Regions from separate parts of the Homo sapiens genome. Here regions 2 and 3 are each linked to region 1. Evidence: fine-mapped expression QTL. A gene starts in region 1. Each other region holds a variant in brackets. All regions are shown on one strand. Distances are from middle to middle.

What was found. PIP is the estimated chance that this variant, and not a neighbour inherited with it, causes the effect.
Region 2: its variant is fine-mapped to the expression of PLAC9 in pancreas (GTEx, PIP 0.98).
Region 3: its variant is fine-mapped to the expression of PLAC9 in prefrontal cortex (GTEx, PIP 0.98).

Annotation. Positions count from the first base shown.
Region 1 is chr10:80,129,402-80,136,234 of GRCh38, forward strand. PLAC9 (placenta associated 9) reads left to right here and starts at 3,329. Exons shown (of 4, transcript NM_001012973.3): 1 at 3,329-3,425. The coding sequence starts at 3,362.
Region 2 is chr10:80,154,412-80,161,244 of GRCh38, forward strand. ANXA11 (annexin A11) reads right to left here. Exons shown (of 16, transcript NM_145868.2): 13 at 4,689-4,784; 14 at 3,556-3,614; 15 at 3,230-3,352; 16 at 1-1,501. The coding sequence ends at 1,442. Among named protein-coding and RNA genes, the nearest start is that of PLAC9, 25 kb to the left of the region's middle. RefSeq lists enhancers at 3,771-4,970, 4,068-4,609. The variant A/G (reference allele first, on the strand shown) is at 3,541.
Region 3 is chr10:80,171,333-80,178,165 of GRCh38, forward strand. It overlaps ANXA11 (annexin A11), which reads right to left. Exons shown (of 16, transcript NM_145868.2): 2 at 4,775-4,823; 3 at 1,475-1,537. The coding sequence starts at 1,529. Among named protein-coding and RNA genes, the nearest start is that of ANXA11, 31 kb to the right of the region's middle. RefSeq lists enhancers at 44-969, 5,091-5,592, 5,593-6,092, 6,612-6,833. The variant A/G (reference allele first, on the strand shown) is at 2,218.

The sequences.
Region 1 (6,833 bases):
GAATCATAAGCAAGTTGTAAACTCTATAAGCCATAAAAGAAAATATTGGGAGGCCGAGGCGGGCGGATCACGAGGTCAGGAGATTAAGACCATCCTGGCTAACACGGTGAAACCCCGTCTCTACAAAAAATACAAAAAATACAAAAAATTAGCCGGGCGCGGTGGCGGGCGCCTGTAGTCCCAGCTACTCGGGAGGCTGAGGCAGGAGAATGGCGTGAACCCAGGAGGGCGGAAGTTGCAGTGAGCCGAGATAACGCCACTGCAGTCCGGCCTGGGCGAAAGAGAGGGACTCCGTCTCAAAAAAGAAAAAAAAAAAAAAAAAAAAAGAAAAGAAAATATTGAGAGATTTGGCTACCTAATATTTAAAACTTCTGAATGATGAAAGACACCACCAAGAAACTTAAATATAATGGAAGGCTGGAAGAAGACATTGCCAACATATATAACAGGCATTGCATTAATAATCAGAGTATATAAAGGAAAGGGAGGAAAATAGAAAAAAGTAATCGAAGAAGCAAATAAAGCTTAACCTCACTCATAACAAGTAGCATGTAAATAACAATAACAACAAGGTAACATTTTCCATCATCAAGCTGTCAAAATTTTAAATAATAAATATCCAGTGTTGGAGAATGTAGGTGACTGATAGGTTTACACTTCAGGTATCTCCAATCCAGAAGGGTTTTTTTTGTTTTTTTGTTCTGTTTTGTTTTTGAGACGGAGTCTCACTCTGTCACCCAGTGCAGTGGGTGACACTGCAGGAGTGCAGTGGCGCAATCTCGGCTCACGGCAAGCTCCGCCTCCCGGGTTCATGCCATTCTCCTGCCTCAGCCTCCCGAGTAGTTGGGACTACAGGCGCCCGCCACCACGCCCGGCTAATTTTTTGTGTTTTTAGTAGAGACGGGGTTTCACCATGTTAGCCAGGATGGTCTCAATCTCCTGACCTCGTGATCCACCCGCCTCGGCCTCCCAAAGTGCTGGGATTACAGGCGTGAGCCGCCGCGCCCAGCGCAGAAGTATTTTATGTAAATGGCGCCCCCTGCAGCCCAATTCCTACCTAGACTAACATGCTCAGGTGCACCTTGGAACAGCGCTGGAAGACCCCTTGCCCCTCCTGTGGGCTTAGTAACAATTTGGGGAACAGTTTTTGGCCTATCTGGCAAAATGTAAAAGGCCTTTGACGCAATGATTCCTCTTCCAGCCTTTCAGAAATATGTACATACAGGAATATGTACTACGTACATGAAGATATATGCAAAGGAATGTTTATTAAAGCTTATTTTATATTGGAGAGAAAAAGGAAGCAATCTACATGTCTGTCAATAGGGGACTGTTTGGATAAATAATGCTCCTTGTATCCATTCATGGGATATTTTAACTCTTAAAAGGAATGAAGTGGATTTATCTGTACCCACATAGACTGATCTCCAAGATTATTTTCTTTTATTTTAAGATGGAGTCTTGCTCTGTTGCCCAGGCTGGAGTGCAGTGGTGCAATCTTGGCTCACTGCCACTTCCGCCTCCTGGGTTCTGATTCTCCTGCCTCAGCCTCCTGAGTAGCTGGGACTACAGGCGCCCAACACCACGCCCTGCTAATTTTTTGTATTTTTAGCAGAGACGGAGTTTCACCACGTTGGCCAGGTTGGTCTCAAACTCCTGGCCTCAGGTGATCCACCCACCTCGGCCTACCAAAGTGCTGGGATTACAGGCGTGAGCCACTGCACCCAGCCAAGATTTAATGTTATGACTGAGATAAACATGAATGAAAGCAAATCTTCAAAATATCTATGACTTGATCTCATGTATATACATTTGTGTCTGAATATACATTAGGTAGATGGGGAATGCATAGACGTGGAACAGGCAGAGCCTACCAAGTTGAGGGGACTGGACCTGAATCATTGGACGGAGGGAATTCGTAACAGAAAAGACTTTCATGTTTTACTCTGTATACTTAATTACTTTATGCTCTACCGCAACAATAATGTATTGTATATGTTTTTGTGTGTGTGTGTGTTTTCTTAGTCTTAAATTCAAAATATAAGGTAGCCCACTGGCTCTAAGCTACAAGAATCCTTATGAGTTGGGCAGTTCTTTGACAACTTTTTTTCCCACCTGGCGAAACTATCAAGGAATGTCCTACCACCAAGCGTGAGAAATTTTTGGCATTCCTGAAATAAATTCTTCTTCTGAGCCAGCTCATGTGGGCATCATAATCTCCTTGAAGGCTTTTAAAAGATTTAGATCTGAGTCTGTCTCAGATTCTCGGGCTCAGAACCAGAATTTCTCCGTCTGAGGCTACTATCTTGCTCTGGAGGAGGGAGTGAGAACTGGATCACTGGTTAGCGTGGTAACTGTTTTGGACAATTGCATAGCCACAGCCAGGAACACAGAAGGCAGAGAGGCAGCCTTGATCTGCAAGAGCTCCAGGTAATCCCAACGGGGACCCTTGATGGACAAAGGCATTCTCCCAGGCTTGGTGATGAATGTGTTCCACTTACAGCCAGACGAGACACTCACTCAGGGCTCTGCAGCAGAGAAGTTAGAGCTACAGCTTTTTTGCTTTGTGTTTTTACTAAAACTTAATTTGTTGTTGCACTTGTTGGATGGGCATGTCCCATAGGGGAAGTTTCCACTACTGTGCTCTAAACTTTGGGCTGCTTGTACCATCTTACTTATCCCCTCATTAATAATGAATTGAATAAAATCTTTAGTATATGCTAATTTCATATCTTTGCGAGAGTTACGATTTTACCTTTTCTTTTTAAAATTACCTTTTCATATTTCTATCACTCCCTTACCAGAGCAGTGAGTTTCTGGGTCTCCCTCTTAGGGGCAGACACTGTTCCATGTAATTAGAATTAATTTCTTGTTCGTAGGTAGACAGAGAAAAGCTGCCAAACTCCCAGGAGACAGGGGTTCAGATCCTGTGCTATGGCTGAGAGTGATGCCGAGGAAGACACTTCCCTCCGAGTCTTAGTCTGCCCGCCTGTGAAACTGGCTCGTAACAAACCCCTGACCCCAGGCTCGGTCGCCTTGAGCCCAAGACCTCACCCAATGCCCCCCGCCCCGCCTTCCCTCCCGGGCTCCCAGGAGGTGCGGGGACTCGGGGGGCGGCCCCTTCCTCGGGAGGCGCCCAGGTGGCACGTCGGTGCCTCAGCTCCCGGGGTCTCTGGGCTCCGCGCTGCCCACGGGGTGCCGAGGGGCCTCTGGAGGGGGCGGGTTCTCTCGAGCCAGAAAGTCCGGAGCCGCCCAGGAATTTTGGCTCGAACTGAGTGCATTTCCTCTCGGGCCGGCCGGGTGCGATCCGGGAAGGGCGGCTGCGGGCAGACGCGGCGCTGCGCTCGGCCAGGCCGGCACCATGCGGCCCCTGCTCTGCGCGCTGACCGGACTGGCCCTGCTCCGCGCCGCGGGCTCTTTGGCCGGTGAGTGGGGCGCAGGGCGCGGCAGGGGACCTGGAGCCGGGGAGACCCGCAGATGGCGAGGAAGGAATGAGCGAGAGAGACGGAGAGAGAGCTGGACACAGCAGCGAGATGGACAGAGAGGCAGATGCAGGGAGGGAGGGATGGAGAGAAAGATTGAGAGGAAACAGACTCAGAAAAAGGCAGAGAAGTAGAGCAACGGAGAGATAAAGGAGATAGGGAAGAATACACAGTGAAAAGGAAAAAGGAGAGGCTGAGACAGAAAGAGGCTTCCCCTGAACAGATATGAACTAAGATAGAAAGAAAAAGGAGTTTGAGAGACAAAAGAGAAGAAGGAAAGAGAAAAAGTGATTAAAATGGCAAGGGGTGGAGGGAGAGAGGATATTGAAGAAAAGAGAAAGATTTGAGAGAGACCAAAAAGGAGAGAGAGGGAAGCTCGATGCCCGGAGTAGAGCTGGCAAGAGAGAAGGAGCCAGGATCTGGAGTGGGAGGTCACAGCTGCTGGGTGGGGCAGCCCCGGAGGCCAGCTCCATCTCAGAGGGCCTGTGGAGGCTCAGGCCTGGCTTTATAGGACATTGCATAAGAAGCCACACTCCAAAGGATGAGTGACCCAGGCTAGCCCAGCACAGCCTTAAGGAACCAGGCAGTCGGGCCCAGGAGAAAGGCCACCGATTCACCTGCCAGGTGGCCTCAGGTGGATCTGCAGTCAGTGAAGAAGTCAGCCTCCCGGTTTCCAGGGAGCTTCTCTGGGAAACTGAGCTATGTTGGGTGGAGATGGGGGACTGGGTGGAGGTGGAGAGCTGTGCGGAGGAGAGAGGCTGTCTGGGTACTCCATTAGCTGGGTTCCTTGCTTTTCACTGTCCGCTTTCTTCCCCTCACCTACCCCTCAGGCGGGCGGATCACAAGCTCAGGAGATCAAGACCAGCCTCGCTAACATGGTGAAATGCTGTCTCTATTAAAAATACAAAAAATTAATCGGGCGTGGTGGCACATGCCTGTAGTCCCAGCTACTCGGCAGGCTGAGGCAGGAGAATCACTTGAACCTGGGAGGCGGAGGTTGCAGTGAGCCGAGATCAAGCCACCGCAATCCAGCCTGGGTGACAGAGCAAGACTCAGTTTCAAAAAAAAAAAAAAAAGAAGAAGGAAAGGAGGAAAGTATTCATGTATTAGTGTAATTTCACACTGATTTCATATATTTTTGTGCATAATCTTTCAGATTTTAGATGATATATCTTAACTTTTGATTATGAAAACTTTTGGATACAAAAAAATACAAAGTAATAGTATGTGAAAGAATCATGTAATATACTTATCAACGCTGCTTCAAGAAGTATCAGTTCATGGGCAGTTTTATCTCATCTATAGCCTCCACCCTCTCTCCCCTCCCTGGATTATTTTAAAGGAAATCCAGGCATTGTATATTTTCTTTCTTTCTTTCTTTCTTTTTTTTTTTTTTTTGAGACAGGATTTCATTCTGTCACCCATGCTAGAATGCAGTGGCACAATCTCAGCTCACTGCAACCTCCGTCTCCCGGGTTCAACTGATTCTCCTGCCTCAGCCTCCTGAGTAGCTGGGACTACAGGCACGCACCACCACACCTGACTAATTTTGGTATTTTTAGTAGAGATAGGGTTTCACCATGTTGGCCAGGCTGGTCTCGAACTCCTGGGCTCAAGTGATCCACCTGCCTTGGCCTCCCAAAGTGCTGGGATTACAGGTGTGAGCCACAATGCCTGGCCTGGCATCATGTATTTTCATCTATAAATATTTCTTTGTGTACCTCTAAGAGATAAGCACTCTTAATAAACATAACTGCAATGCTATGATCATACTCCAAAAACTGTGTGTGATTGAATATCATTAAATATTCAATCACTGTTCAAATGTCCTTGATTGATTGTGTCATATCTTTTTGCAATTCATTTGTTTGATCCAAATAAGGTTACATACACTGCATTTGGTCAATATGTCTGTTAGATCTCTTTAAATATGTAAGTCTTCTCTCCCCTTTTTTTACTTAATTTTTTGTTTTTGTTGAAGAAACTAAGTTTGTCCTGTAAAGTTTTCCACATTTAGATTTTGCTAATTGCATCCCTTTTATGTCATTTAAATACCTCCACCCCTTATATTTTCTATAAATTGAGAGCTATCTCTAGCACGTCCAACTTCCAACCTTGGTTTGTTTGTTTGTTTATTTATTTATTTATTTATTTGAGATGGAGTCTCGCTCTGTCTCCCAGGCTGGAGTGCAGTGGTGCGATCTCCGCTCACTGCAAGCTCCGCCTCCCGGGTTCACACCATTCTCCTGCCTCAGCCTCCCAAGCAGCTGGGACTACGGACGGCTGCAACCATGCCCGGCTAAATTTTTTTTGTATTTTTAGTAGACATGAGGTTTCACTGTGTTAGCCAGGATGGTCTCGATCTCCTGACCTTGTGATTTGCCCGCCTCGGCCTCCCAAAGTGCTGGGATTACAGGTGTGAGCCACTGCGCCCGGCCTTTTTTTTTTTTTTTTTTTTTTGAGACAGAGTCTTGTTTTGTCATCCAGGCTGGAGTGCAGTGGTGCGATCTCAGCTCATCACAACCTCTGCCTCCTGGGTTCAAGCAATTCTCGTGCCTCAGTCTCCCAAGTAGCTGGGATTACAGGTGTGCACCACCACACCCAGCTAATTTTTGCATTTTTTAGTAGAGACGGGGGCTGCGGGGGAGTTTCACCATGTTGGCTAGGCTGGTCTCAAACTCCTGACATCAAGTGATCAGCCTGCCCCGGCCTCCCAAAGTGCTGGGATTACAGGCATGAGCCACCGCGCTGGGCCCAAGTCTTGGTTTCTTTTAGCAGCACTCAGAGAAACCTTTATCCCTGATGGCTTTTTAGACCATGAGCCACCACGCCCGGCCCATATTTTGGAGTTTTTTATAAAATCACTTGAAGAATAGTTTTCTGCTGCTTTCAAAAATGATCAAAACCCGTGGATGGTTTTGAGTGAATCATACATTTTAATACAAATATTGGATGTGGTAAATTTATTATTCTATTATGTTGAATGTGGTCAAATATAATTAACCCCCAAGTGGCCAGGGTTGCTTTTCAAAGCAGAGTGTGACTTTGACAATTCAGAAGATACAGCGGCACCTTTCAGATGCCACTGAGAAAACATTTCTCAACCCCCAGCATGCAGAAATCATCTGTGTTGTGGCCCTTTCTTACTGTTTGGGTCCAGATACAAAAGGTCTCCCCATAAGGCCTGTAAGTAGAAGCACCCGTACTTCCGCCTCAGAGGATGGGACCCAGGGGCCACGTCTCTTTAACTGGGGCAGCCAGCCCAGCCGAGCCCTCCTCTGGGGCCTCCGGGCTCCACAGCAGCGTGTTCTCACCAGCACAGGATGCCCCACCCATGGCCACCATCCAGGG
Region 2 (6,833 bases), 25 kb after region 1:
GTAGAGACAGGGGTCTCGCTGTTGGCTAGGCTAGTCTTGAACTCCTGAGCTCAAGTGATCCTCTCACCTCAGCTTCCCAAAGTCCTTGGATTACAGGCGTGAGCCATAGTGCCTAGTCGATTCTCTCTTTTCTAAACCTCAACGCAGGAGGTTGGAAAAGGAGTGGGTGGAGACCCCTGATGCAAGGTAAGCTCTAGCTTCTGGACATGACACCATAATTCTCAGAAACTCTCTTATGGATTCTCTTCCCTCACACCACCAACCAACGGGCACAGGGTCCCCAGAGACCAGAGCCAGGAGCCCCTTTCAGCCTGGAGGCACCCTGAGGGGAGGCACTGGTCTTGTGACTCTCTGGGTTGTCCCCATCCTTCTCTCTGGCCCCCGCCGAGGGGCACCAGGAATTAGCACACACCCTTCTTCCCTCCTGGGACCTGGGTGAAGGACTGCATTCTTCGCACCACACCTTCAGTGGACTTCACTGCACCTGCAACCAACCAAGATCCCTTTGCCTTTCAGGTGTCTGGGCCTCCTGCCTGGATTTCGGGAACCTCCCTTCCCATGTCCTTACGAGTCCCTGCAAACTAGTGTATGCTCAGGGTTTCCTGCACACAAATCTCTACGTAAGGTTACATGAACTTTCACTGGCTGATAAGGCCAGACCTCTGAGCCACAGGGCAGAATCAAGCAGAAGAAAACAAGTTGGTACCAGGAAGACATTTCCAGACCATTCCAGAGCTGGCTGACTCTTAATGTGGAAACAAGTTTTGGCTACAGACATTCAGGTTTAAGGCACATACCACAAATTACAAGAAGCCCTGTCACTGACAGGGAACTGGCTTTGTTCTCGTGGTTTCTGCAAGGAAGATGGAAGGAATGACTTTCTGGCCCTTTTTTTTTGTTTTTTCTAAAAAGGAGTGAGTTTGGCAGTAACAAAGCTCGTGACACACTCACCAGATGCACAGGCTACCTTCTCAGGCACGCCTCCCTTTCTCTCCTCAGCGAGGACACGGTGCTTCACCCACCCAGTCGCCCTCACCAGAAATGTGTATGCAGCAAACAGACTTGTATGCCTCTGTCTGGCAATGACTGTAAGAAAAGAAAATATGCCTCCAAATAAAAATATACAATTACATGACGAAATGAAGCCAAGTCTTAGCCACAGGCAAAGGGGAATGATTGCATGAGTCAGAAAAATGAAACATCTATTTTAGCAGCAAGAGGCTGTGAGGGATGGGGTAGAAAAGGCATCCTGAGAGAGTTCTAGACCGACCCAGGTCCTGTGGCACACTATACGGGTCAGGAGGGGTGGAAGACAGGCCTAAGCTCTAGGACGGTGAATCTCGGGGCTATTTGTGGATTTGTTAGAAACAGACATTCTTTTGGCCTTTTCCTGGCACTGGTGTTGCCGGCAGGTGGGCAGAAGTGAGCCACCAGTCACTGTTCAGTCATTGCCACCACAGATCTTCAGCAGAATCTTCCGGTAATCCCCTGAAGTATCTCCCTGGCCACAGAAACAAGGAAGACATCCGTTAAGGGAGGGACAGTCACTTTCAGCCTTCTGGGTCCTGATATTCAGCCCTGAGCACCCTTATAGGGAGAAAGCCCCACCCTGGGGAATTTTCTCCCACTGCAGGTCCTGCAGCAGGCGTCACAGACCTTAAAAAATGCAGTTCAGCCTTCTCCAGGCCCCCATCAGAAGACGGAAAGCAGCACTCACCCCAGCTATCCACATCAAATGAATACCCACAAAAAAAAATTATAATCATCCTAAAAACCACTTCCCAGGGCTAACCAATATTGCTGTTTTCCCAGTGCATTTATGCTGCCTTAAATTGGGGTTACCAATGTAACGCAACACAGTGTCCTGCTCAGGAAATGCAATCTCCTCACACATGACTGTCCAGTGGAAGGCTCAGACTGCCCAGGTCCCAGGGATCTCTCCTCTGTCTGAGGCCACTACACTTACTCTAAGAGTGCAGGCTCGGCTTGGCTCATTTCTAATCATTTCCTTCCACCCTAAGCAACTTGAGGGCAAGGCATGTGGCTTCTTCCAGATGTCCATAGCTTGCTGGCATGCAGGAGATACTCTGTAATGAATTATTAACTCTCTTTTTTTTTTTGAGACGAAGTCTCACTCTGTCACCAAGACTGAAGTGGAATGGCGTGATCCCAGCTCACTGCAACCTCTGTCTCCCGGGTTCAAGCAATTCTCCTGCCGCAGCCTACCTAATTAGCTGGGATTACAGGCAAGCCCAGCTAATTTTGTATTTTTAGTAGAGACAGGGTTTTACCTTGTTGGCCAGGCTGGTCTCGAACTCCTGACCTCAAATGATCCACCTGCCTCAGCCTCCCAAAGTGCTGGGATTACAGGCGTGAGCCACTGTGCCCAGCCTAGAATCACTAATTCTCTAACAACAGCTTCATTCATACAGCCAAGGAAACACAGTGAGTTTCCTGTGATGACATGCCCACCATCATCAAATGCTACTGAGTCTAAGGTGGGAGGACGTGGTCCCCATGGTGCAATTGCAAGGCTCATGTGAGTTCAGAATTTGAGCGTTAGACCACACAGCTGAGAATGTATTTTGTCAGACTGGCTCTGCCACACAGCGATACAACTGTGGCTAGTGTTTAATAGACACTTGACCTGCACTGCCTCACTCAATACTCACAACATTCCCAGGAAGGAACGATTATTTTCTCATCTTAAAGACAATGGAGCTGGGGTTCAGGGAGATTTAAGGGAGCCATTCAAGGTCACACAGTTAGCAAGTAGAAAAGCTGGACTCCAAGTGGCGTGACCCCCAGGGCCCTCGCTCTGAACGGCCTTACTATGTGGCCTACGCCATAAAGCTGAGTGCAGGAAGTGCTTTGTCAGGGAGTGACAGCAGAGCTCCACAGAGCCTTTGGGACATGAGTTCTCACTGACAGATCAAGGAATCACACGGTGATCGGAACGCTGAAGGTCACGGTCAAGGTTGGGGAGGTCCCGAGTGTTCTCTGATGCTGCTGGGGGATGCAAGGTGGGGGCGACAGCAAGGTCATGATCCACCTGCCCTCAGAAATTTATAATCTGTTTAAGGGCAAGGGGATGAACAAGTCCGAGGTCCATAATCAAGATGCCCACACACAGCACAGAGGCCAAGCATATGGCCACTCCAAGGAGGGAGGTTCCACAGGTGACTGAGATGCCAAAAGGGAGCCCAGTTGGCCTGCAGCAGGCCCGTACCGAGATGTCGTGGTACAGCGACTTGCCGTACATCCGCTTATACTCTGATCTGATGTCCAGGAGGTCGGTCTCGCTGCGAGACACCATGATGCGAATCAGGGTCCGGTCCTTTGTTCCTGCCCCCTAAAGAGAGTCCACCCAAGAGCATGAGCACCAGGCCTCCTCACCTTCCCACCTGCCCTGGGCCCTCCAGTCCCCTCCCTACCCAGGTCCTCGGAACTCTCAGCTGAGATTTAGCTCTCCCCAGGCCTTCTGCCCTCAGCCCTTGGTCCCAGGCACAGGCGAGGCTAAGGTTCCATCGCAACCTGCAC[A/G]TGGAAGTTACATACCCTCATGGCCTTGTTGAGCCTCTCCGCAAAGAAGGCTGGGGTATTCTTGAGACATTTCACTAGAAGAGAGAAACTCGGCATAACCAGATCTGCAGAAAATTCTCAGCCCAAGCAGGGCATGGAGTCTACAAGTGTCCTCTTAGAGGCCCAGATGTCAAACCCATCACTGCATCCATCTTTTCTCCTCCTCCTTCTGTTCCAGGCTCAACTATCCCATGATCTTGGCTCCAGCTATTTGGAACAGAAACACGCAAAGCCTGGAAACCAACCCACCCTCTTTCCTGGCAACCACTGCGGTGAAAGGACCAAGAGTCAGAGGGGCGGGGGTCTTAGTGGGGCTAGGAGCTACACAGGGAAGCAATGTGGATGGTGATGAGGAACTGTGCTGCTGCTCAGGCAGGAGGGGCAGACTGGAGAGGCCATGACCGTCATGGAGAAACCGTGGCTGAGTGGAATGTGCATCTCCCTAGGCTTCCCAGGCCATGAGACCTACTATGGGGGACAGGCAGGGAAATGAGGATTTTCCATCTCTCCCATCCAGAAAGCTCCAAAAAAAGCATAATGAAAAAAGGGGCAGACTGATTTTCCCAAGTGAGTAGAAAGAGGGGTTGTGAGGGCCTCAGGGCAGGGACCCAACTCTGCACAGTGGGAGGGCCCTGCTAGAGGACATGGGCAATGTAAGAGGCACACCACCATCCTGGAGCCAAGCCAGCTTTCCTCAGCATGGGCCTGTTTCGCTGCTGCAAGTAAAAATCTTTCCACGTGTTTCCATCACAAACATCTGACAACTGCCTGCAGGGATGTATTTTTAGAGGAAACGTGGCAGGATATGAGTCATACTCCTCCGGGAGCGCAGTTGGATGCCCTCCCACTAATACCCACACTGCAGTTCCCTACTCCAGAGCTGCACCGCAAACACACACAAGACACCTCCAGGACAGCTAGGGGTTCAACTGCACAGGGAACCGGGAAGCAGCATGACTTCCCAGCATCTGGACACTCTGGGCTGAGCGATCTTGGATCCTGTGGTCCCTTCACGGTGTCACCCATCAGCTGGAGGACAGGCGAGCAGCCTGAACACTCACGATACACGTTAGCCCCTGGCAGGTGGGCGGCAAACCTGAGACACTTACCCACGGCCAGCATGCCCTCCTCCAGGTCCCCGGACATCTCCCGGCAGATGCTCTTCTCAATGTCCCGGCCTGTCATTCTCTGGTACTCATTGAAAACTATGGGGATGACAGAGGCTTATATTATGAACTGAAATGTGTCTCCCCAAAGTTCATATGTGGAAGTCCCAACTCCCAGGACTTCAGAATATAACCGTGTTTGGAGATAAGATCTTTAAAGAGGTAATTAAGTTAAAACATGCTGCTAGGGTGTACCCTAATCCAATTCGCCTGGTCTCCTTAGAAGAAGAGAAGATTAGGACACACACAGAGATCCCAGGGATGTGCACATGCAGAGGAAAGACCATGTGAGCACAGTGATTGTCACGAAGAGGCCACGGGAGAAACCGGCACCCCACTCTTGGATATCTGGCCTTCAAAACTGTAACAAAATGAGTATCTGCTGCTTAAGCCACCCAGTCTGTGGTATTTTGTCATGGCAGCATGAGCAGACTAACAGAGGACTCACATGAGGTGGCCTCTGCCCCAAAATCTCCCACCTGCCACTCTGCTCCCACACCCTGCACGTCCCCAGGCCTGCTAGCGCTCAAGGAAGTCAGAGTCTTCGTCACAAGTTACATGCACCACCTGATGTCCCTCCCTGTGTGGTCCCTTTCTCAGGACTGCCAATCTGCTTAACCAAATCGCACCTTAATACCCCTCCAGGGCCCACTCCCATGTACTCCAAGACAGTGTCCCCTCTTCTCAAATCCTCCACACCTCCAGTCTCTGCCATTCCTTGGCTTTATTCATGCATCCATCTGTCTTCCTCAGCCTGCCTGTGAGCTGAGGCCCAGCCTGCCCCAGCCAGCCTGGCTTCTTGCTGCTCACCTCGACCTAGGACACGCTAAGCACCCACAGGAGTGGATGGCTGGCTCCTAGAGAGACAGGTGGCATGATGGAGACCTTGGTCCTGACTCCAGTTCTGACCCAGGACATAAAACTCTCCTTCCCCAGCCTGAGTCTCAGCTACCATTTGCATTTTAAAGTTGTGATTTCTGCTCTGTGTGTATCTGTCTCAATTAATATCTTCTTCCAATCAGCTACTCTTTTCTCCTAAGTAATAATGTTTGTGAAGCCATGGGCTTGATGCACTACTTACATGTTCTGTACTCATTAAAAGAAATAATGATTAAGATGAAAATGCTTTCACTCAGGCTCCATTACAGGATAGTGCAGAGGTTAAAAAGTGTGCTCTGGGGTCGGGTGGTCTGGGTTCAAATCCCAGCTCAGCTGTTACTAGCTGTGCACCCCTACTTCCTCTACCACCCTGTGCCTGCTTTCACAGCTGCGAATGGGGAGAGCCACAGCGCCTGTCTCTGTGTGCAGCACAGAGCGGTCGCTGGGTTTTCACCCTCACTGCCCACTGGAGCAGCCCTGGCCACAGCCCACCAGTTGCTCCGTGTGGTCACCATCCTCAGTCCTTGCCTGCCACCTCACACTGGCCTCCAGGACCCCCTTCCTCTGCGTCCTCCTCCCTCCCTAGCTGCTCCTTCTTAGTCTCCTCACACCGGTGGGCTCCCCACAGTCTCCCTCCTGAGGGGACCTCCTGCAGTCCCAGAGCCTCAGATAACTTCAACTACCCATAGCTCCCTTACCTTCCACAACCAGGCCAGACCTCTCCTGACCTCCACACTCAGCAACCCAGCAGCCTCCCTGCAGCTCCACCCTACAGGCACCTAAAGCCAGCTCCACCTACAGTCCCCCTGTCTCAGTTGAGGGCCATTCTCCCACTGCTTGGCCTAAAGAAACCCTGTATAATCCTCGAACCCTCTCTCTCCCACACGTCACGTGTCCAATTCATCAGCAAACATGGCCGGAACCTGACACCTCCTCACCACAAGCCCCTATTACCACCATTCCTCCCCGGGTCCCTGCAGCAGCCTCCCGACAGGCTTCGCTGCTTGGCCTTGCACCCTTCACTCCATTCTCGGCACCACAGCCAGGGATTCTGCACAGCCTCCTCTGCTCAGGGCCCTCCACTGGCTTCCTCTTTTGCTCAGGATAAATACCCAGCTCCGGGAAGTCATCAGCAGGGCCCTCTCCCCTCTCTGCCCTCACCTCCCACTCCTCTTGCTCACTCCACCTGCTCCACATGGTCCCCCTTCA
Region 3 (6,833 bases), 42 kb after region 1:
GCGGGAGGGGGTTTGGCTGTTTGCTATTACAAGTCTGTAAAAGGCAGGGAGAAGCAGGATAAGAGGCTGGAGGGACATGGGGCTGGGTCATGGTAAACACAGATACCAGTCCACAAGAGGACAGGAAGAAACAGAGGTGAAAAGCCCGCTCTGAAACCAGCAGGACCGGTATGTGCCCTGGGGCAAGGCTTTCACCCTCCTTAGGCTTGTTTCCTCAGCTTACAAATGGGCTAATGGTGAGTGTATGCCTAGACTGCTGTGACGAAGACTGAGTTAACACCTGCAGGGCTCAGCTGGGTGCCCGATGGGCATTCGACATCATCATGGGGCCTCTGGCCTGTTAGATGCTTTCCTCTACATGGCAGCTTCGGATCGGCTCTTCATCTCCAGGGCTCCAGACCCTCCAGGAAGAACCTTCCCTAAATTTCCTGCCTCCTCCTCTCTTGCTGCTCAGAGGCTGCTCAGCTGTGCTAGCAAAGGTGGCAGTGGCAGGATCTGGATGGCAGGATTTCTACTATAGAGAGAGAACCCAGGCCAGTGCCAGCCAACCTGGGGTGGGCTCATTCAGAGGGCAGTGGCCCAGCTCAGCCCCTAACATGCCCTGGGACAGCAGCTGAGCCACCTCTAGGTCTGAGTCTGTTCTTCACCTGCTGAATGGGAGGGAAGGTAAATGGCCTGCAGGTCTGGGGTGTTCAAACCACAGGACCTCAGCTCCAAAGAAATCAATGATGCCTAGGAGTCCCCTGGGGAGAGGGGCAGCGGCTCAGGCACCCTCAGGATGACCAGCCTTGGAATGACCCTTTTCTCCCCTTGGTCTCATGAGCCCTCATATTTCCTTTCCCACAGTGGGGACCAAATCTCATTTGAGGACCAAAAGGGGCCAGGGCCAGAGAAGACGACTTCTCCATGTGACTACCCACAGCTCCTGCAGAAAACAGGGAGTGACCTTTGACCCTTAGCATCTGCCTCCACTTCCTCTCTTGGCAAGGGGGATCTTGTTGCTGCAAACCCACACACCTTGAGCAGAGGGTAGGAGAGGTGGTAAGGGGCAACCATCACCTAGCAATGCTTTGGAGGACACCGTGTCGCTCTGCCTGCCTATCTCATCAGTATCCAGGACCACCTAATGAGGGAGAAATCCTTGAAGCAATTTTGCGGAGAAGAAAACTGAGTCTCAAAGTGACAGCATTTGCCCACTGTTACTAGAGAGTAAGGCAAGAGACCCAGCCCTGGGCCTGGTCCAGGGCTTTCTGGAGGCAGTTTCAAACCTAGGCCTCCGATGGCCTTAGTGTCATGCTCTTCTCCAGCCCCTGCCTCGGCTGGCTGTCCCACTACTCCTGTTGTCCTCTCCTCCCCTGCTGGGCCGTGCTGTGAGGGGAGGAGGGGAGTGAGGAAACTACTGTTCTCCCCTCTCCACTCCCAGCCACTGTACAGAGGCAGCATTCACTCTCCTCCCCACCCCAGACCCTCTTACCTGGTGCAGCTGGTGGGTAGCCACCTGGGGGCGGGGGATAGCCAGGGTAGCTCATGGTTAGATCTGGAAGAGAAGACGAAAGCACATTCAGGCTCTGCCTGAGAGCCCCTGCTGGCCCGTGGGACCCAGCTTCTTGAAAGGGCAGCCACCACCACAACTGGGACCCTGCAGAAGAAACTGCTGCATCTGCCCTGCTTGTCGCAGACCAGTTCACTGTCTCCTGCTGGTGCCTCCAGCTAGAAACAGTACCCACCAGCATGCTGCCTGACTTCTGGGCCAGGGCCACACCCCCGGCCCCACCCACAGTGACAGGATTCACTCCCCATGAGCCAGTTTCCTTGAAAGGCCCTCTCACTGAAGCTTTGCTCCTGCCTCTGCTGGCAAGGGTGCAGTGCGCCTCTGGGCCTGTTCTCCCACCTCAGAGGTAGAGACGCACTGCCTCATTCTCAGGACTCCAGGTCTGTCTATTTATCTTCCTGTGTCCTTATTGCCATCCCTCCAGCAACAGGGGAAGTCAGAGGCCCCTGTCTCTCTTCATTCTCCAACCTCTGGTTCATCAGGCAAGGGGACCTGGTAAGGTATGGAATCATCGTTCCTAGAAGCAAAAAGGGCCCTCAGGAGGTTCATCTGATGCAGGGTGAAGAACCAGGGCAAATGAGGCAGCATCACCCTGTTTCTGCAGTAGAGGCTGCTGATTAAGAGAAGTAAGTGATTTGCAGATCTGTCAGTAAGGGAGGAAGAGC[A/G]GCCTGGACAGGTGCCAGGTGAGACACCTGCTCTCACGAAGTCCCTCTGAACACGGATCCCTTGGCAATGTCCCCTGCCAGTTAAATTGTGAGGAGGGACACAGATCTGCTGTGACACCAGCCACATTGTGCAACCTGCCTGCTCTTGCTAATAGCAGCTGCTGCTGCAGTCTGCAGAGACACCCAATGGCAGGCGGACATGTGAGGAAACCTGCAGGGTCCCTCAACAATCACACCTGCTCGTCTCGAGTATGTGGCTTCTTTTTACACACTGGGTTTCACGCTGCAATGCATATCAGAATCACCTGATGGGATTGTTAAAACACATTGCTGGGCTCCACCACCAAGAGTTTCTGAGACAGTGGAACCAGTTTTTGCATTTGGAACAAGTTTCCAGATGATGTTACTGGTCCAGGGAACTCACTTTGAAGACCACTGTTCTAGCCACGCTATCCAACTATAAGAGTCTAGCTGCCCTTCATATCTATCTTGAAGAACTGGGCATATTGGGTTTTGTTTGTTTGAGACAGGGTCTCGCTCTGTCACCCAGACTGGAGTGCACTGGCACAATCATGGCTCACTGCAGCCTGGACCTCCTGGGCTCAGGTAATCCTCCCGCCTCAGCCTCCTAAAGACATGTGCCACCACACACAGCTAATTTTTTTTTTTGAGAGTCTTACTATGTTGCCGAGGCTGGTATATGCTGTTCTTTTTAAGTTTTTTTATTATTTATTTTTATTTTTTTGAGACAGGGTCTCACTCTGTAACCCAGGCTGGAGTGCAATGGTGTGATCTCGGCTCACTGCAACCTCTGCCTCCTGGGTTCAAGTGATTCTCCTGCCTCAGCCTCCCAAGTAGCTAGGATTACAGGCGCCCGCCATCATGTCTGGCTAATTTTTGTATTTTTAGCAGAGACAGGGTTTCACCATGTTGGCCAGGCTGGTCTCGAACTCCTGACCTCAGGTGATCTGCCTGCCTCGGCTTCCCAAAGTGTTAAGATTACAGGCATGAGCCACCATGCCTGGCCTACTTTTATTTTTTAAACAGCGTCTCACTCTATCACCCAGGCTGGAGTGCAGTGGTGCGAGCTCAGCTCACTGTAACCTCCGCCTCCTGGGATCAAGGGATTCTTGTGCCTCAGCCTCCAACAGGAGGGCGCAACCATCCCTGGCTAATTTTTGTATTTTTAGTAGAGATGGAGTTTCGCCATGTTGGCCAGGCTGGTCTGAACTCCTGGCCTCAAGTGATCTGCCCGCTGCGGCCTCCCACAGTGCTGGGATTACAGGCATGAGCCACTGTGCCCAGCCTACATGCTGTTTTTAAGGAAGCTAAAGAACTTCCTTAAGGTACCACCGGTCCCCATAGGGTGGGCCTGGTTTTCAGCCCTACGGGTGTAGTCATTTGTTTGGGTCAGTGGGTCCAGAGGTGACCGTAGGCAAAGCCCTATGGCTTTGGAGAAAGCTGGAATTGGCTCCCTGTAGTGTGGACCAAGGACCTACTCCTTGCAGTTTTCGGTCTCTCTGAGCCCCTAAGCACGTGGTGGATGAGGTCCCCGGTGGCATCACCTTCAGAGAGGGTGTCCCTGAGGCTGGGTGGGCTGTCAGTACAAAGCCCTCCCCGTCCCGGCCCCAGCCTGACCCTTCTGCCCAGACTCTGCCAAACCCTCAGACTTCACTGGTGAGGAGGTAATCTGGGGGATGTAAATGACCAGTAGGCCAGGAACCTTCTAATAGAAGGAACTGCCCGACAGGTGAGCAGGAAGAGCCGGGATGGTGTCTCTGTCACCTTCCTCTCTGGAGACACCACTAGGCAGGACCTTTGAGCACCAAAGACACTCTCCACTCCTGGCCTCCTCTCAGAGAAATGAAGCCAAAAGCTCCATCCACAGCCAGGCCAGGGAAAAAACCCAAGAAACAGAAGCTGGATACCACCCTGTTCCTTATACCAAGTAAATTCCAGCCAGGCCAAATAATGCAGTGAAAGAAGTAGCCCCAAAAACCAACGACATAAATAAAATTTCAGCATAAGAGACAAATTAAAAAAAAATAAAGATGAGAAAAAAACTTAGGAAAAAAGTTTTATTAATATAATAAGAAAAAGATCAATAACCACTAGAGAAACTGTCAAATGATGTGAACAGATCTGGCAGTTACAGAAAAGGAGCTGAAGATGCTCACCTTCACCAATGTGCTGAGGAAATCACCAATTAAAAATACACAGATGTCGGCTGGGCGCAGTGGCTCATGCCTGTAATCCCAGCACTTTGGGAGGCCGAGGTGGGCAGATCACCTGAGGTCAGGAGTTCGAGACCAGCCTGGCCATGGTGAAACACTGTCTCTACTAAAAATACAAAAATTAGCCAGGCGTGGTGGTGGGTGCCTGTAATACCAGCTACTCGGGAGGCTGAGGCAGGAGAATGGCTGGAACCTGGGAGGCGGAAGTTGCAGTGAGCCAAGATTATGCCACTGCACTCCAGCCTGGGTGACAGAGCGAGACTCCGTCTCCAAAATAAATAAATAAATAAAATACAAAGATATCAAAACTTAAAATGACATACCTTTGACTCAGCAACTCCACTTCTGTAAGTCTCTTCCCCAGACACACACCTGTGTGAAATGTCATACAGACATGAATTTTACTACAGCCTTATCTGCAACAACTCCTAAACCTCCACCAATGAGGCTGGTTAAATAAACCACAACAGATCCAACAATGGATACTCTGTAGCTATTTCTGGATTTAGCCAGCTCTGTATATGGAAAGATGCAATGACCACCATTATTAATCAAGGTGCAGTACTGTGTATGTACTAAGCTAATAAAAAACCCAGAAACATACAAACTAAGTGGTTCCTGAGTGTAGACGTGCACGGACATCCTTGGAATGACACACAAGAAACTAGCTAACACTAGCTGCCTCTCGAGAGGAAAGGTGGGGCTAGAAAATGAGGCTTCCGGTTTAGATCTGTTCCCTGTGCATTTCTGCTGCATGTATGTATTGGCCATTAAACAACTTTTAAAAAGGCCCAATTCAGGTGCAGATTTCTGAGCTCACTTGAGGCTAGCCGTCTGGCCCCCAAAGTCCTGGCTGGTCTTCCAAGACTAAAAGAACACACACAGGGTCCATTCAGTTCCAGGCAGCCTTGGTAACCCTGGAGGGCCTGCAGGCCAGCCTTGATGGCGCTCGTGGAGCTCATTCTTGGGGTGGCTTTTAAGGGAGTTCCCAGCAGGAGTCAAAATCTGCCTCCTGGCTAGGAGCTCTGCCCTGCATGGCCCCACAGGGCAGGTCGACCCCACTGTGAGCTGTGGTCCTGCGACCCTGGGTCTTCCCCTCTCCCCAAGATATACCTCTAGTCCTCCGTTCTTAGAAAGAATAGCCTCATTTTTCCCTCTGTCATTCTCTGCCTGAAATAGTTTCAAGCCTGCTCCCCACTTTTTTTTTTTTTTTTGAGACGGAGTCTCACTGTGTCACCCAGGCTGCAGTGCAGTGGCGCAATCTCAGCTCACTGCAACCTCCACCTCCTCGGTGCAAGCAATTCTCCTGCCCTAGCCTCCCAAGTAGCTGGGACTACAGGCACCTGAGGCACCTGCCACCACACCAGGCTGATTTTTGTATTTTTAGTAGAGACAGAGTTTCACTATGTTGGCCAGGCTGGTCTCGAACTCCCAACCTCAGATGATCCGCCCGCCTCAGCCTCCCAAAGTTCTGGGATTACATGCCTGGCCTGACCCCACTCTTATCTTTTAGTTCTTTTCAGGACCAAACGCCCCAGGTATGGTCTGAAGAGTGCAGGGCGGGACCTTCATCTCCCTCCAGTGGATGCTACTCCCTACCTCCCCGGACTGGTACAAGTGGGTTTTCAGGCCACGGAGACCTTATGTGGGCTCCTGTGAAATTTCTCCCCTGGGTTCTGCCCATTGCTCCAGTCTCCTGAGACCTTCTGGGATTCTGCTCAACATCAAACATCTTCCCCCTCTCTCTCAGCTTTGTTTTACATCCATGGATGCAATAAGCATGGCATTTGTGTTCTGCCAAGTAACCAAGACGAAAGGGACAACGAGGGACACTACAGAACTGTCATACTCAGAACTCCCCAGTTCAACATCAAACACTAGGCATCATGTGGGTGCAGGCATTTAACCAGCTCTCCCCCAACTCACTCTGCCACCACCCAGTACACATTTCTCCACATGCCCAAGTGAGGGTTCTAGCACATTTACTCTGAAGAGAGCCTGTTTATCTGCCTAATTACCCCCAGGAGAAAAGTAAACGCAGCCCAATAGCCAGGGGTGACCTTCAGGTGGACACAGGCTCCCAGCGCTGACCAATCTCCCCCCAAGCTATCCATGTTCTAGGAGGCTAGAGGCTGCAGGATTAGCACACTGCTCTCTGACTCACAGAAGCAGCATTCTTCTCCTCCTTTTCTTTGAAAATTAAGAAATCTGCTCATGGTCCAGTCTTCTGGTAACTGTGACCTCTGCATTTTTTCAAAAGAGGCTACCGCAAGGGGCTGTCCTTGGAGAAGTCGTTCCTGGCACCCCAGGGCTGCCATATCTGGGCTCGGCAAGACTTCTAAGGCCCTCGGGTCCCCCTCCCTAGCCTGTCCAGCACCCACT